Regions from separate parts of the Homo sapiens genome. Here region 1 is linked to region 2. The links come from fine-mapping of genetic effects on gene expression. A gene starts in region 2. The other region holds a variant in brackets. All regions are shown on one strand. Distances are between the middles of the regions. Region 1 has its middle 30 kb from the start of TERLR1. Region 2 holds the start of SLC12A7 (solute carrier family 12 member 7).

Region 1 (5,475 bases), 36 kb before region 2:
CCTACAGACGCTCATAATTATACCTGGAGGGTTGTGTGCAGCCCAGAACACTCTGGGAGGCCAAAGGAACCCTCCCCTAGTGCTGGGGCTGGCAGAGGCCGGGCCCCTGCAGACGCCAGCTTAGCAACGGCGCCCACTGACATCTTCAATGAGATGTGTGCCGAGGCCAGGCTGAGGTTTCTTTGTGTGTCTCTGTGTGTGAGTGGATGTCTGCATCTCTGTGGAGCGTGTTGGGTTTTTGCCGCTTAAGGAGAAGGTGAAGAGTTCGTTGCCTGAGCCTTGGAAACTGCTCTGGCTGGGAAGCAACGCTCATGGTAGAAGGCGCCTTTGCAAGCCTGAGCTTTGTGAGCTGGGATCCCGGGGATCTGGAACAGGAGGATCCTTGGGTACCACCCATGGGCCCAGACCCTGCTGGCACAGCAGTGAGGCTCTGGCCCCGCCATCTCCGTCCAGCTCCCAAGGCCGCCCTCCCCATCCGTGGACCACAGGAGAGTGGGCTGCCCCCTCAGCCTTTGCCTTCTGATGGGGGAAAGCCTCAGGAAAATCCCATGTCCTCAGCTGGCTGCATGCTCTCCTTGTTGGGAAAATCAGACCACCAGGCTGCTTCTGCGTGCCCTCCTGGGCCACTCAGAAACGTGGTGTGCAGATCCCAGGCGGAGGCCACTGGTTCTGGTGTCTGAAAACCTGCCAGCCCCACGGGGCAGGCTCTGTTTTCTTTTTGCTTAAATATTTCATGGAGCTCGGCCGTCGTGTTCATCCATGAGCTGCCTCTAGTTATCTGTGGAGCAGGACAAGCTTGCGTTTTGTCACTTTGCTCTTAAAGAAGTCTCGACTCAGTGATTTTAATTTTGGCTTTAAAAGAAAATGCTTGAACGCATGTCCATCCTTTCTGTTCTTTGCTATTTAGTGTTTAATTTGGCTTCTTTTTCCACTGGAGGGGACCTGGGTTTTGAGACACCAGCTCCATGTATACACCAGAATTTTCTTTAAATAAAGACTTGAATATTCGGAAGAGATCCTGCAGCTCAGCTGCTTGTGGCATGAGTTGGGGTCCTCACTGTGGGCTGGGCCTTTGGGCCTTGGTGCAGGGCTCCACCCAGGTGCCTCCTCTGTTCCTCTGGTCGAGGCCTGTGCCCTGAAAATGAGGGATGGGGTTAGGGGGCAGGTGTGTGTGCATGGATGTCGGCTCCTGCATGGCTCTATCGGGGTCGGGGGAGGGGCAGAGGAAACTACAAGCACAGACTAAAAAAAATGCAAACACACATCAGAGGACACACACAGAGTAGAAGAACAGCTCCCGGGATGGGAGAGAGCATTTGCAAATCATAGAGCTGATGAGGGGTTCATACCCAGAGGATGCCAAGAACTCCTACAACTCAACAGCAACAGCAAACAAATACACCCTTTTAAAAATGGGAAAAGGGCTTAAATAGCTATTTCTCTGTTTTTATTGTTGTTGTTTTTTTCTTTGAGGTGGAGTTTCGCTCTCGTTGCCCAGGCTGGAGTGCAATGGCACGATCTCAGCTCACCGCAACCTCCACCTCCCAGATTCAAGCGATTCTCCTGCCTCAGCCTCCCGAGTAACTGGAATTGCAGGCGTGCACCACCATGCCCAGCTAATTTTTTGTATTGTGAGTAGAGACGGAGTTTCACCATGTTGGCCAGGCTGGTCTCAAACTCCTGACATCAGGTGATCCGCCCACCTTGGCCTCCCAAAGTGCTGGGATAACAGATGTGAACCACCGCACCCGGCTTGAATAGCCATTTCTTCAAAAAGATACACAAATGATAATAAGCACATGGAGAGATGCTTCACATCCCTAATCACTAGAGAAATGCAAATCAACACTAATAATTGTGAAGACACCACTTCACAACTATTTGAATGGCTCTTATTTTTATTTTTTTTAATTTATTTGTTTTTGAGAGGGAGTTTTTCTCTGTTGCCCAGGCCGCAGTGCAGTGGCACCATCTCGGCTCACTACAACCTCCACCTCCCGGGTTCAAGTGATTATCTTGCCTCAGCCTCCAGAGTAGCTGGGATTACAGGCACCTGCCACCACGCCTGGCTAATTTTTATATTTTTAGTAGAGATGCGGTTTCGCCATGTTGGCCAGGCTGGTCTCGAACTCCTGACCTCAAGTGATCTGCCCACCTTGGCCTCCCAAAGTGCTGGGATTACAGGTGTGAGCCGCCGCGCCTGGCCAGGCTCTTATTTTTAGAATGGACAATACCGTGTTGGTGAGGATGTTACAAGTGGGGACCCTTGTGCGCTGCTTGTGGGAATGTAAAGTGGCATGGCTGGAAAACAGATGTCAGAAGCTCACACGGTAGCATCATAGGATCCACAGTCCCCCTTCTGGGTGCGGCATCGTAGGATCCACAGTCCCCCTTCTGGGTGTAGGGGCTCAGAGAGACATTTGCACATCCATGTTCCTGGGAGCATCATTCACGGTAGACACAGGTGGAAGCAACCCAGTTGTCCGTGGGTGGATGAACGGATTCATAAAATGTGACATGTACTTTTAAACAAAAATTATGGGCAGCTGTTGTTTTGAATGGAGCTCCTACACCAGGCCCCAATACATCACTCCATTTTGGTTTGGCCTGAAGGCTAAATGGCATCATCAAACTGAAACTTTAAGGAAGCAGATAGATCCCAAAGCTGACCAGTTTTTTCTGAAAACAGGAGACTGCAGTCTACCTGGTCAGTGTACAAAGGAAGTCCCTCTGCTTTAACCCTTACAACAAGGAACCTGAGGGAACCCGATGTCAACCGTCAGCCTTTCTTCTGTTCCGTGTCCCTGTACCCACTTTACAAAACCCACTGTTGGCCATTGCCCAGGGGGAGCTCTCATTCCTCGACTGAGGCTGCCCCATTCGTGAATCGAGAATAAAGGCCAATTCAATCTACAGCTAAATTTGTTATAATTTTGTATAACATTTTGATAGTACATGTAGTGGAATATTATTTAGCCTTAAAAAGTATCAACAAAGGCCAGGTGCGGTGGCTCACGCCTGTAATACCAGCACTCTGGGAGGCCAAAGCAGGTGGATCACAAGGTCAGGAGATAGAGACCATCCTGGCTAACATGGTGAAACCCCGTCTCTACTAAAATACAAAAAATTAGCCGGGCGTGGTGGTGGGC[G/A]CCTGTAGTCCCAGCTAGTAGGGAGGCTGAGGCAGGAGAATGGTGTGAACCTGGGAGGCGGAGCTTGCAGTGAGTGGAGATCGCACCACTGCACTCCAGCCTGGGTGACAGAGCGAGACGCCATCTCAAAAAAAAAAAAAAAAAAAGAAAGAAAGAAAAAAGTATCAACAAAAAAAAGCAAACTCTGTAAAATATTTAAAGAGGTTTATTCTGAGCCAATGTGAGTGACCATGGCCCAGAAAACAGCTTCAGGAGGGCCTGAGAGCCTGTGCCTGAGGCAGTTACAGTTTGGTTGTATACATTTCAGGGAGACAGAAGTTACAGGCAAAGCCAGGCGAGGCATAATCCCAGCTCTTTGGGAGGCTGAGGTGGGGGAATTGTTTCCCTACAGGAGTTCAAGACCACCCTGGGCAACATAGCAAGATCCCGTCTCTACAAAAAATTTTCTAAAAATTAGCCAGGCGTGGTGGTGCACACCCACGGTCCCACCTGCTTGGGAAGCTGAGGCTCCAGTCCGGGAGGTCAAGGCCACAATGAGCTGTGATTGAGATACTACTCTCAGCCTGGGTGACAGAGTGAGACCCTGTCTCAAAAAAGTAATTAATTAATTTAATTAAATAAAGAAGTTACAGGCAAAGGCATAAATCAGTACATGGAAAGTATACATTGATTCGGTGGGAAATGAGGGACATCTTGAAGGGGAGCAGAGAGATTTAAATGTTTTCTGATTAGTATTTGGGTGAAAGAGTTAAGCTGAAGACGTGAAGGCTTGCAGTGGGTGGAAAGAATCACTTGGCTTCAGCTGAGGGGCTGTGGAGACCAAGGTGCTGGTGACGTAGAAGCCTCCAGGAGGCGGCCCCGAGAGGACAGAGGGCAGGCAGGGCCTTCAAATGTGTGGGGACTCCTGGCGGGTCTCTCCGGGTGTGGGACCCTCGGCGGGTCTCTCCGGGTCGGAGGGACTCTCGGTGGGTCTCTATACCAGGGTCAGGCTGGATTTGGGGTCTTACCGCCACAGAGTCTGTTCTGCCGTCTTTGGATAACTATTTTGGAGTTAGTGTGGGTCAGCTGCACCTGAACTCCTAAAGGCGGGGGCGGGGGGGGTGGCGGGGTGGGCCGTGATGAGGAGAGTCCCTCCTCCCTTCTGTCACCGTGGGAATTTAGTGTTTCCTGTTGCCCTGGGTCCCCTTGTCCAAGAGGGGTGTTCCGTTCATTTGTCTGTGGGACTTTGGATTTTGTTTTTAGTTTACAAAAGAAAGGAAATTCAGACACACACTGCCACATGGATGGAGGCTGAGGACATTGTGTGAACGAAATAAGCCTGTCGATGAAAAGAGCGAAAGTCTGTGAAATATTTGAAGAGATTGATTCTGAGCCACACAGAGTGACTGTGCAGTGACACGGCCCTCGGGAGGTGGGCGGGTGCAGCTGGGCCTTAGTTCAGGCGGGCATGAGACATTTAAGATATACATTGGTCAGGTCCAGAAAGGCGGGACAGCTCCAAGTGGGGCTTCCAGGTCATAGGTAGATTTAAAAATGTTCTGATTGGCAATTGTTTGGGAGTTACTATCAATAGAAAGGATTGTCTGGGTTAGGGTAAGGGGCTGTGGAGGCCAAGGTTTCATCATGCAGGTGAAGCCTCCAGGTAGCAGGCTCCAGAGAGAAGAGATTGTATGGTGTTTCTTACCAGACTTAAGGTCTGTGTTGATGTTACTGCTGGTCGGCTTTTCCTAAATTCCGAAAGGGAGGAGGGCGGCATGAGGCATGGCCGACCACCGCTTCCCGTCGTGGCCTGAAGCAGTCTTTCTGGTTAACGTTGGGGTGTCCTGGCCCAGAGGAGGGGTCCATCCAGACGGTCGGGGAGGAGCCTTAGAATTTTATTTTTTGTTTACACTGCAGAGATGGCTTTGAACACCTCTCAGCAGGCCACCACTGCTCCCACCCACATGCAGGCACCCCAGGCTTCATTCCACGGCCAGGTCAGAGGGACCCAGGCCTGGAGGTCCGTGGTCACTGGCCCAGGTGGTCACCTCCAGGGGTCACCAGCATCTGGGCTCCCACAACTCCACTCCAAAAGCCCACCTGCTGGCAGGTCCCTGAGGTCTCATCACAGACCTGGAGACTCTCCCAGAGGAGCCTCAAGAAGGTGGGTGACCAGGGAATGGCCCCTCCTGCTGGGAGCAGGTTCCAGGGAGAGCCTTTGGGAATGAGGAGGGATGGGGCAGCCAGACACAGAAAGGTCAATCCTGCAGAATAACAGTTGCAGGCAGAGCCTGGAGTTGTCAAATTCTGGGAGACGGAGGCAGAACGGGGACTGCCAGGGGCTGGG
Region 2 (5,209 bases):
GCGGCCTCCTGGCTTGGAAGCTGGCATTGGGTGTCCGTCCTAATCCATTAGAAACTCCACCCCAGGGTGGCAGGCAGCAGGGACTGTTTCGAGAATCTACACACAGAATGTAACCACCATCGGCTACACTTTCGCACTAAATCCCAGGGTTCCCCTGGCTGTGCCCTGCACACGGCCAAGAGGCCATCGCAGATGACCAGGCTCACATCATAAGGATGCGAGATTGCATTTGAAGAGGCCCCCTGGGCAAAGCTGGACACCGATGCTTGGAAAGGGCACTAATGGTGATCGACTGAGACCCACCAATGTGTTTCATCAGCGATGTACAAATATACTTGGGAGATTGTCGGGAACCAATTCACCGTTGTGGAAACTGACAAATGAGGGAGAGGCACCCTTGCCCTGCCTTTCCTGTGGGCACCATTATCCAGATGGCCAGACGGACAAGATGAGCCTCTCCCTCCAGTGAATTCATGACGAAGCCACCACGCACTGGAAAATCACCATTTTGCTCCATGAATCTGTCGATTCAGACATCAAGCACCAACGACTGCGGACGGAGGAGCTACCACCAGACAGTGCGTGGCTCCCTCTGCGAGCCCCCGGCCTTGCCAGGGGACTGGACCCGGATCCCAGCAGTCCCCTGGCTCCAGGTGCCCACTTCCAGGAGACGCAGAGGCCTGCACCGAAAGATGCAGCTCCAACCCAGGCCTCGGGTACCTCCACGTGTCCGAGGGCCACTTCCTACAACAGGTGCCGGGTACAGAAAAGGACAGAGGGATGGAGGTGGGTAGGAAGAGAGCACTGAAAGTCACACAACGCACATTTAACCCCAGGCTGCCGTGTGGGAGGATATACGTGGACACGGAAACCCACAGAGCGAAGGGAGGGGCCACCAGACCCCTAGGGATGGGCTACTGATGGGATGGGAGGGGCCTGCAGCGGCTTCTGGGCTCCGGCAAGGGTCTCTGTCTTGACCCGCAGGTGCTTACAGGGTGCTGATCCCTGTCGTGACTCACCTGATTAGAATGCAAAAGGCAGCAGACCTCACCCCCCACCCGAGGTCTCCCACAAGTAAGATCTAAGATTTAAACAAGAGAAGCCACCTGCCTTCTGCCTGGCAGGGCTGGGCACCCACCCAGGTGCTTCAGCCATGGCCCCTGGTCCTAGTCAAGATTTTGTAATCACAGAGAAGACCACCCTCGGAGCTGCCACAGGACCCTAAACTCCTGGGCCTCAGTTTCCTCCTCTGTAAAATGAAGCTGATGAGTCCTGAGTCCGGGAGCTGGCCCTGGCCACAGACCCTCCAAACCAGCTCCTCTGAAGGTCCACAGCCAGCACATGGCGGGCAGCCGGCCCTGGGGTCCTGGGGTGTGAAGCAGAGCTTGGATGTGCGACGGGAGCCCTGCACATCTGTTGCTCCTGCTGGCATCACTTGGGAAGGCCTCGTGCCCACCCTGAGCTCTGTCCAACCCTCGGGAATAGCGCTGGGTGGCAACCAGGGTTGAATGTACAGAAGCCCCTGCTGGGGTGACTGAGGAGAGGGTTTACCCAGCACCCTAAGTGTGAACCCTATAATTGACCCCATTGGGCACTTCTGTTCCCACCCCCTGGATCTTTTTAGCAAAGCCAGCCCTCCTCATAAGGATGCCTGGGAACTATTTTATCTTCTGGGGAGGTGATGGTTTCCTACCTTCCAACCCACTGACCCAGGGAGGCAGCTGACCTAGCACCATCCACAGCCCTGAGCTCCCTTTGGTGGGAGGTGGGGTGAGAGTGTGGAGCAGGCACAGCTCCAGACACCCAGGCCAGAGGAACCCCCACCTCTGCAAGGGCTGGTGCTGGATGGGCGACGTTCCAGGAGGGTCCCAGGCCTACAGCTTCTGCCCAGAAGAGTCCATGGGGCAAAGGGGTAGAACCCTAGGCCACCCCAGGGCATGACTGGCTTTACTGGAAATGGCTGGAGAGGTTGGGCTTGCGTTCCTTGAACCCACAGAGCCCGGTGATCCCACAGCCCGGAGGCCATCACTCCCCTCCAGCTGCCTTTTAGGATTAGACAGGCAAGCGGCTAAAACATGGCCAGGCCATACCCATTTTCCACGTGACAAGAGGCTGTGGCCGTGTTTGCCCACACCACCTGTGTTTCTGCTTTGTTGTCGTACAGCAGTTGTGGGTGATTAGGAATAAAGGCTGACTCATTGCACCTGTGTGCCATAGCATTTTAGCCCAATTCCCCATTGACGGACATCTGATTGTTCCGTTTTTCATGAGTCATTTGTTGAGAAATGTGCCAGGTGCTGGCCGGTGGTATCCTGGTGTCTGCCTGGTGGGTTCTGGAACTCCACCTTCCCTGCATCACCCTGTGAGCTTCTGGAACATTTCCCAAGGAGGGAAGGGAGGGTTCTAGGGCAGGGGCCGCGGGGCACTCCTGGGGCAGGTGTGGAGGAGACTGGGGTCTTCGTGGGTGGTATTTGTCATGGGTGGGGGGGGGGACTCCCTCTACTGGGTTAGGTCCCTAAACTGGAGCTGGACCAAGCTCCGGAGTACCCCACCCCCAGGCTATCCAAGGCTCCTTCCACTGGAGTTGCCTTTGCAGCCAGGTTGGGCTAGCCAGGAGCCAGGCTAGGAGCCCAGGGTCTGAGCGGGTGTTGACAGCCTGGAGTGGGTGGGCGGACTGTGTGGGAGGTGGGTGCTGGAGGATGGCAGGGGGGAACAGGAGGGGGAAGAAGGAGGGGTAGGGGGCTGGAGCAGGAAATGGGGGGCAAACAGGAGGGGGTGCGGGAGGGGGCGCAGAAGGAGGAGGGGCCCAGCAGGAGGGGGTGCAGAAAGGGCAGGGGTTCCAGCAGGAGGGGGTTCATAGGGGCAGGGGGGCCCAGCAGGAGGGGGTGCAGGAAGGGTGGGGGGGTGCAGGAGGGGTGAGGGGTTCCAGCAGAAGGGCGTGCAGGAGGGGCAGGGGGCTGGAGCAGGAGTGGGGGGTCGGGGAAGGGGACAAGAGGGGAGGCGGGGAGGGGGCCGGGGAGGGCGGGGAGGGCGGGGAGTTCCAGCAGGAGGGGCAGGGGGCTGGAGCAGGAGGGGGTGCAGGAGACTGAGCGGGGATTCGCGGGCTCTGCGATGGTCGGGAGCGCAGGCAGCGAAAGCCCCGCGTCCCGGGTCGCGGCGGTCAGACAGACGCAGCCTGGGTTGGGGTCCCTGCAGGAAGTCGCCGCGGGCCAACTTTTCGTGGGGCCGCGGGGCAAGCAGGTGAAGTCACGTGGCCCGGGCGGGGCGGGGCGGCTCGGTCGGACCCCGCCCCTGCCTCCAAGTCCCGTGGCGTCGGCGGGAGCGGCGCAGCGCGGGCCGGGCCGGGACGGGGACTGTCGGCTGCAGGCGGCCATGCCCACCAACTTCACCGTGGTGCCCGTGGAGGCTCACGCCGACGGCGGCGGGGACGAGACTGCCGAGCGGACGGAGGCTCCGGGCACCCCCGAGGGCCCCGAGCCCGAGCGCCCCAGCCCGGGTGAGCGCGGCCGCACCTGGCCGGACAAAGGCCGAGCGCCCCGAGCGCGGGTCTGGGCCCGGCATCCGGGAGCGGAGGCGGGCGGCGGGGCCGGGGGTACAGGAGGCGCCCCTTCCCGCGCCCCCACCGCCTGTTCTCGGTCCCCCACGAGGGCCCCCACCCCACGTTAGTGGCAGCGCTAGGGGGCGAGGGGCCCTGCCAGGGCTCCCGGTACGGTCAGCTCGGGTGGGACCGGGGGCAGAGGTGTGGACGCCGCTGCTGGTAGCCATGGAAACGGGGAGGGGCTGGAGCGCGCCTCCGGAGGGAGCCCGGGCCCCTGGGTGGTCCCTAGTGGGACAGGGGTGGCGGTGGAGACCCGGGCGGTTCGGGAGCCGGGGCGTCCTGCGTCCCCCGCGCTCTCCCTTCCCCTGCGCCGCGGCCGTCCGGTAACACTAGCCCGGGCCGGCCCGTCCTGCCCCCGCCTGACCCTGGAGGAGCCGCCCACCCCCCAGAGGCGGAACAGGAAGGACTGCGCCCTGGCTGGGGAGGGGGCAGCCACCGGGGCCTTGCTCAGGCCGCGTCCTCCGTGTTCCCGTCCCCCGTTCCGGGAATCTGGAGGTTTCTAGCACTTTCACTTTCTCTAGGGGGTGGGGACGGGGCTGGGGAGAGAATCCCCCAGCCCTGTTCCCTCCATCCTGGCTCCAAATCCCAGTTACTCCCCGGATCTCAGCCCCCTCTAGAAACCGGAGGCTCTTAGGCCCTTCCATCCGGAGTCTCTGAGAAGGTGTCCGGACTCAGTCCAGCCCCCACCCCGCGTGCTGGCAGTGCCCGCATGTGCCCGGGTCTCATGCAGTGGGTGGCAGCCTCCCTGCTCCCTGGCAGTGGAAGGAAGGTGAGGTCTGTCCAGGGACAAGTCCGGTGCCAGACCCCAGATCCTTCCTAACCCACCATCCCGGGCAGGAAAGGCCAGACATCCCCTCCAGGCAGTTTAGGAACCCGGAGACACGGGTGGGGACCCACCGTGAAGGCAGTGGCCTGGTGGCCTGGGGTGCGTCATCAGGGTCCCCGTGGCGGGCGAAGAGTGGTCTCAGCTTCCTCTGCACAGAGGCCAGCCCAGATCTTGGAAGTGGTCAGGCGGGGCGCCAGGCTCAACACCAGGTGAAGTGCTAACTAAGCAGGGTCCGTGAGTCCAAGCCCCTTCTCTCCAGTCACCACCGTGGAGGCAGGAAGCACCAAGGAGTGTGGGCCCTGGCGTGGTCTTTCTGTGTGAGCTTTGTAGCAACGCCCCCGGAACGCACTCAGAAGGAGCCTCTTCTTGTCTGGCCGGCCCCTTCTCAAGGCTGATCAGGTTCACTTTTGTCTTTAGACTGTAAGTGTCATTTGCTTTTAAGCCAGAGAGAATTTTGTGCTTGTTCGTTTTCTTGTCTCTTCTACTCTCAAGGCTGTTGAGCAGTGCCCTGGGCCTGTGTCTGCCCAGCAGGAAGTGGCCCTGGCTGAGCGCTGCCCATGTCGCTGCCCGCGCACTCAGGTCCTGCTACGGGCGTGTCAGGAGGCTCCCTGGCCTTCATGAAATTGAGAACGGGAGGGCATGGGCCAGGTGTGGGCTTCTGGACACTTTTGAGGGTGGCCCTGTGGTGTGAGCTGAACTTGGGAGATTTCTCCGAACTGGCAGAGAACTTGCACCTGGCGCTTTTGTGCTGGACCCGCTTCCTACTTCCACAGAAAGGGCCCGGT

The links. PIP is the estimated chance that this variant, and not a neighbour inherited with it, causes the effect.
Region 1: its variant is the best candidate, but not a certain one, in a credible set for the expression of SLC12A7 in nasal epithelium (TOPMed, PIP 0.54).

Annotation. Positions count from the first base shown.
Region 1 is chr5:1,146,026-1,151,500 of GRCh38, reverse strand. It overlaps a transcript of SLC12A7 not described here. Among named protein-coding and RNA genes, the nearest start is that of TERLR1, 30 kb to the left of the region's middle. The variant G/A (reference allele first, on the strand shown) is at 3,150.
Region 2 is chr5:1,110,155-1,115,363 of GRCh38, reverse strand. SLC12A7 (solute carrier family 12 member 7) reads left to right here and starts at 3,301. Exons shown (of 24, transcript NM_006598.3): 1 at 3,301-3,496. The coding sequence starts at 3,373.